Regions from separate parts of the Homo sapiens genome. Here region 2 is linked to region 1. The links come from fine-mapping of genetic effects on gene expression. A gene starts in region 1. The other region holds a variant in brackets. All regions are shown on one strand. Distances are between the middles of the regions.

Region 1 (2,500 bases):
GTGAGGGTGGTGCAGGCCGCCTATGCTCGGCACCGAGACGGCCGAATCCTCCTCTTTAGCGGTGAGTGGGGCCGGCGGCGGGGCGCGCTGGGGCCGGCGCGGGGAGCCCACCCCTGACCTCCCGGCCTCCACCCTGCAGGGCCCCAGTTCTGGGTGTTCCAGGACCGGCAGCTGGAGGGCGGGGCGCGGCCGCTCACGGAGCTGGGGCTGCCCCCGGGAGAGGAGGTGGACGCCGTGTTCTCGTGGCCACAGAACGGGAAGACCTACCTGGTCCGCGGCCGGCAGTACTGGCGCTACGACGAGGCGGCGGCGCGCCCGGACCCCGGCTACCCTCGCGACCTGAGCCTCTGGGAAGGCGCGCCCCCCTCCCCTGACGATGTCACCGTCAGCAACGCAGGTGGGGAGCGCGGTGACCTGCGGGTTACTGGGCCTGGGGGTGGGGAGAGGGATGTGGGGAATGGGGACATGGAGGCCACCCTGCGGGGATGGGGGTCCTTGGGCATCAGGGAGCGGCGGGGCGGGGAGGGACCGGGACTCAAGCTCTGCTCCTCCAGGTGACACCTACTTCTTCAAGGGCGCCCACTACTGGCGCTTCCCCAAGAACAGCATCAAGACCGAGCCGGACGCCCCCCAGCCCATGGGGCCCAACTGGCTGGACTGCCCCGCCCCGAGCTCTGGTCCCCGCGCCCCCAGGCCCCCCAAAGCGACCCCCGTGTCCGAAACCTGCGATTGTCAGTGCGAGCTCAACCAGGCCGCAGGACGTTGGCCTGCTCCCATCCCGCTGCTCCTCTTGCCCCTGCTGGTGGGGGGTGTAGCCTCCCGCTGATGGGGGGAGCCATCCAGACCGAACAGCGCCCTCCACGGCCGAGTCCCCCGCCGCTGGACCTGGTCGGGGGTTGTGAGGCGCTGCGGAGGCCCCTTGTCTGTTCCCACGGACGGGGGCTCGGGCGCGGACTAAGCAGGGGGGATCTCCCGCGCAGGGGCGGCGGCGGCGGGGACCGGTCGCCTGGCGCTGGGCTCAGTCTCCTCAGGGTCTGAGACCCCGGCGCTGCCACCGGAACCCGCCTTCAGGGGCGCACGCGCGCTGGGACCATGCGTCGGTCGTCGCCCCCGTCGTTCCCTCCCGGCTGCCGCCAGGGGGCGGTCGGACCCCGCCTCCCGAGCCCGGGGAGGGGCGGGGAGGACAAGGGGCGGGCCCGCGGCCTCACCCGGAGGGACGGCAGCCCCGGTCGCGCGCTGGCCCCGCAGGACCTTCCTTTTCCAGGAAGAGCCAGCTTTTCTCGGAGCGCAGTCCTGGGACTCTCCGCAGCCCCGCCCCGCCTGGCCACTGCGTCTGGCATTCCTGGGTCGTTAGAGGACAGGCCTGACTGCGAAGCTGTGCCTTGCCCCTCTCCCACCCGCAGTTTCTCACCCCGTTCTGCTCCCACAAGGCCCCCCTACAGTCACTGCCACACTGGTGGGGACCTGGGACCCAGACCCGGAACCAGCCCAGATATCACCCCTGAGGACCCATGCGCCACGTCCTGGGTGGTGGAATCAGTGGCTGGAGGGACGACCCTTGCTCTCCAGGCTGTTAACCTTTTCCGTTGCTCCCCCGCCACCCACCTCCTCCTCCCCAGGCCACCCAACTTGGGCACCTCCCTGGGCCCAGAACTGCCTTCCATTCAATGGGGAACCCTTCTATCCCCAAGAACCCCTTCCCTGCTTGCACCCTGGAGAGAACAGCTTGACTCCCATCAACTCAACGCTGGTGGAAAGACAGGGACCGAACCCTGGCTCAGGCCTGGTCATTGCCTCCTCAGCACTCCCTCCTGGGAGGCCTTAGCTCTAGAGTGAGGGGTGGGTGGAACCTGGGGGCACCTCGTTCACCCTGTCCCCACTCCCCACAGTTTTAGGATCTAAATGATTGCCTCTGGAACTATTCTTCTAGACTATCCCACATCAGAATCACTGGGAAATTTAAGTTTGCAGATCCCACACTCACCCTGAATCCTCACTCAGGGTGGGGTCAGGAATCTGCATTTTAACTAGTCGCGGGGATTGTGGGGGGCAGTAGCTGGCTGTTTCGTGGCATTTCTGTGGCTCTGCAGTGTTCCTCCACCCCAGGACCAATATGTTCAGGCCACACCGATGGCCTGAACCCCATGGGTAGAGTCACTTAGGGGCCACTTCCTAAGTTGCTGTCCAGCCTCAGTGACCCCCTAGTGCTTCCTGGAGCTGAGGCTGTGGGCGGCTGTCCCAGCAACCATGCGAGGGGTTGCCCCAGTTGCTCATACAAACAGATCAGCATGAGGACAGAAGGCAGGAGACTTTGGTCAGTTACCTGGGAATTCTGGGCTGCCAGGAAACGATTTGGGCCTCTGTCAGTTTCTTTTCCATGTATGAGGAGGGGGAAATTTGTATATTAGAAACTTATTCATCCCACTCAGGACAATAAAAACGAATGTACAAAAAGCCCTTCCATTCTTCTGAGCATTGATGGACCTGGGGAGAAGTGTGG
Region 2 (3,007 bases), 22 kb before region 1:
GACACAACAGCTTTACCAGCCCCAGCCCTCCGGGGGCTCACCACCCACTAGGCACACACACCCGTGCTCTCCCTCCTCCTCTCGCCCGGTGTCCATGTGCAGCCCTGCTCGCAGGACGTGAGTGTCACGGTGGTCCCAGCCCAGCCGCCCCCAGGCCGCTCCCGGGGACCTCCCTGACTTGGCCCTCGCGGGCCCCGCTCCCCCGCCCCCCTCCACGCGAGAGACAGGGACCTGGAGACCGCTCCCCCTCCCCTTCCGCACCTAGCTGCCCAGGTGTTGGGGCCTCCAGCCCCAGGCGTCGGAAGCCCAGAGAAGCGGCTGGGCTCACCCCCGACGGCTGAGTTCCTGCCGGCGCCCCCGGTTCCCCGGCGATCCCGGTTCCCCTGCCCCCGCCCCGGCTCCCCCACCTTCTCCGCCGACGCGGCCGGACCAGGCCCTCCCCAGGCTCGAGGGGCCCGGCCCTCGGCGTCCCCCAGGCTCTCACCCGAAGCCGCCGGGCTCCCTCCGAGGTCCCCGCGGTCTCCGGTCCCCTCTTCCGGAGGCGGCTCCAGGTGTGCGGCCAACACAGGTGAAGGGGCGGGGCCGCGGGAGGGGCCGGGGCGCTCCCTGGCTGCCTGAATGGCCGGGCGGGGTCGAGGGAGAGTCGCTTCCACCTGGGTGGGGGGCACTGGCCCAACCTGCTGTGGTTGCAAATGGCCCGGCCAGTTAACTGAGCATCTACTGTTTGCAGATCCTACATTGAGGTAGCCTCCGCTCCTTTCCCGTCACGACTGCCTTGCCCTGTGGGGCAGGAAATTATTAGCAATGACAACAACACCGAATCTGACATCTTAAGCATTCTGCTAAGTAAACTCTTTTTTATTTTTTAGAGATGGGATTTTGCTCTGTCACGCAGGCTGGAGTGCAGTGGCACCATCACTGCAGTCTCGTCCTCCCAGGCTCAAGCGATCCTCCCACCACAGCCTCCCCCGTAGCTGGGACTGCAGGTACATGCCACCATGCCCAGCTAATTTTTGTACTTTTTGTAGGGGTGGGGTTTCACCATGTTGCCCAGGCTGGTCTCAAACTTCTGGATTCAAGCAATCCTCCCGCTTCGGCCTCCCAAAGTGCTGGGATTACAGGCATGAGCCTCTGCTTCTGGTCAAGTAAACTCTTTTATAGGCATAACTTGTTGACCTTTTTTTTTTTTTTTGAGATGGAATTTTACTCTTCTTGCCCAGGCTGGAGTACAGTGGTGCCATCTCAGCTCACAGCAGCCTCCGCTCCCGGGTTCAAGTGATTCTCCTGTCTCAGCCTGGTGAGTAGCGGGTACTATAGGCATGCACCACTACATCCAGCTAATTTTGTATTTTTAGTAGAAATGGTGTTTCAATGT[T/G]TTGGCCAGGCTGGTCTCAAACTCCTGACCTCGTGATCCGCCCACCTCAGCCTCCCAAAGTGCTGGGATTACAGAGTGAGCCACCTCCCCGGCTCAACTTGTTGACTTTCATGATGACCTGATGACGAGGAACTGCTGTCATCCCCATCTTACAGATGAGGAAGCTGAGGCTCGGAGGCGGAGGGGGGTCCTCCACCTTGTTTGGGGTCCCCTGGTCAGAACTGGAAGGTGAACAGCACAAGTGTGGCTTTAGGGTCATGCTCTTTACTGATTCCCATGCCGCAGACAAGGACACTGTAGCCCAGGCAGTGAGAGTGACTTGCCCAGAGCCATGCCCGAGTCCGTGTGGCTCCACACCTGGGGTTCTCAGTTCCTCAGTTATGCAGAGCTGGGGACCGTGCTCTTGTCTGGGACAGGGGCTTTGGTGTGGAGATGGGAAGGTCCGGGGCTGGGGACCCAGGGTGGCTTGGGCAGCAGTGATGCCCCATCCATGGCCTTGTGTCTTGTCACGATTTATCTCCAGACTCCAGGGCTCCCTGGGCCTCGTGACAGGGGCTCCTGGCCTGGAGAGCAGGACAGATGGAAGGCTGGGAGCAGTGGCGTGCTGGTAAGCGTTTAACAACAGGCTCCCCGGCTAAAACAATAGCCCTCGCTCGTTGCATTTGCCAATATCCATGATGCAATACCTGCTCCTCGGCTGACTTCCAGCTACTCACCTGGCGTCACGGAGTGCAGAGGTAGAAGGGGCTGTGCACATCAGCTCTGGCTGGCTGGTGTCAGCTGGGTCCGTGCACCTCTGGCTGGGGATCAGGACTCCTGAGTCTTGGGGGACTGGGGGCTACTTACTTGGGTTCTAGAAAAATAGGAGGAGGGTGGGGGCTGGGACTCCTGGCTTGTGGGAAAAGGGGAGCAAGGACTCCTTGGAGGGGTGACTTAGGAACTGGGACTCCTGGGTCCTGGGGCTGGGACAGGGTTTTCTGCCAGCAGAGAGTAGGGGAGCCAGAGATTTGTCTTACAGCCACATTGCCCAGCAAGCCTGACACTTTCTCCCACTGCACCTGTGGGAGCAGCCTGGTAGCCACTGGAGGACTGAAGACATCCCAGCCTCCCCTGGGTGCTGCTATGTGACCCTCTGGAAATAGAAGCTCAGTGTCCCCTCCAAATGCCAGTCACCCTGGGCCCCACTCACACCCACACGTAGCACATCTTGAGCGCCTCCTGCCAGGCTGAGCTCATCCCAGGATGAAGTGATTACAGCCCTACTCCCAGAAGGTTCACAGTCCACCTGGGCCATGGGAGGGAGCGTAGACCTATAAACCAGAAATGAACCAATAAAACAGTACAGCAAAGTGCTTGGCCCATGGGTGCTGGCATCACATAGCTTCGGTCCAGGATCCAGTTGGCCACATACCAGATGTGGGTGCCTATGCCCTTCAGCTGATTAACCTCTGCGGCCCTCAGTTTCCCCATCTGTAAAATGGGGATGATAGTTCCTAGCTTATAGGGATGTGAGGATTTTTTTTGAGATGGAGTCTCGCTCTCTCCCCCAGGCTGGAGTGCGGTGGTGAGATCTCGCCTCACCGCAACCTCTGCCTCCCGGTTTCAAGCGATTCTCCTGCCTCAGCCTCCTAA

Evidence for each region. PIP is the estimated chance that this variant, and not a neighbour inherited with it, causes the effect.
Region 2: its variant is the best candidate, but not a certain one, in a credible set for the expression of MMP25-AS1 in esophagus muscle (GTEx, PIP 0.51).

What each region holds. Positions count from the first base shown.
Region 1 is chr16:3,058,273-3,060,772 of GRCh38, forward strand. MMP25-AS1 (MMP25 antisense RNA 1) reads right to left here and starts at 1,098. Exons shown (of 5, transcript NR_123723.1): 1 at 724-1,098; 2 at 268-430. MMP25 (matrix metallopeptidase 25) reads left to right here. Exons shown (of 10, transcript NM_022468.5): 8 at 1-61; 9 at 140-397; 10 at 555-2,454. The coding sequence ends at 826. LOC124900372 (sialidase-like) reads right to left here and starts at 1,098. Exons shown (of 3, transcript XM_047435000.1): 1 at 724-1,098. RefSeq lists silencers at 1-17, 48-177, 318-367, 828-1,297 and an enhancer at 1,336-2,241.
Region 2 is chr16:3,036,410-3,039,416 of GRCh38, forward strand. It overlaps BICDL2 (BICD family like cargo adaptor 2), which reads right to left and starts at 535. Exons shown (of 10, transcript NM_001369667.1): 1 at 485-535. It overlaps LOC100128770 (a long non-coding RNA gene), which reads left to right. Exons shown (of 8, transcript NR_047572.1): 4 at 1-551; 5 at 870-986; 6 at 1,221-1,297; 7 at 1,426-1,603; 8 at 1,899-2,724. RefSeq lists an enhancer at 1,245-2,132. The variant T/G (reference allele first, on the strand shown) is at 1,376.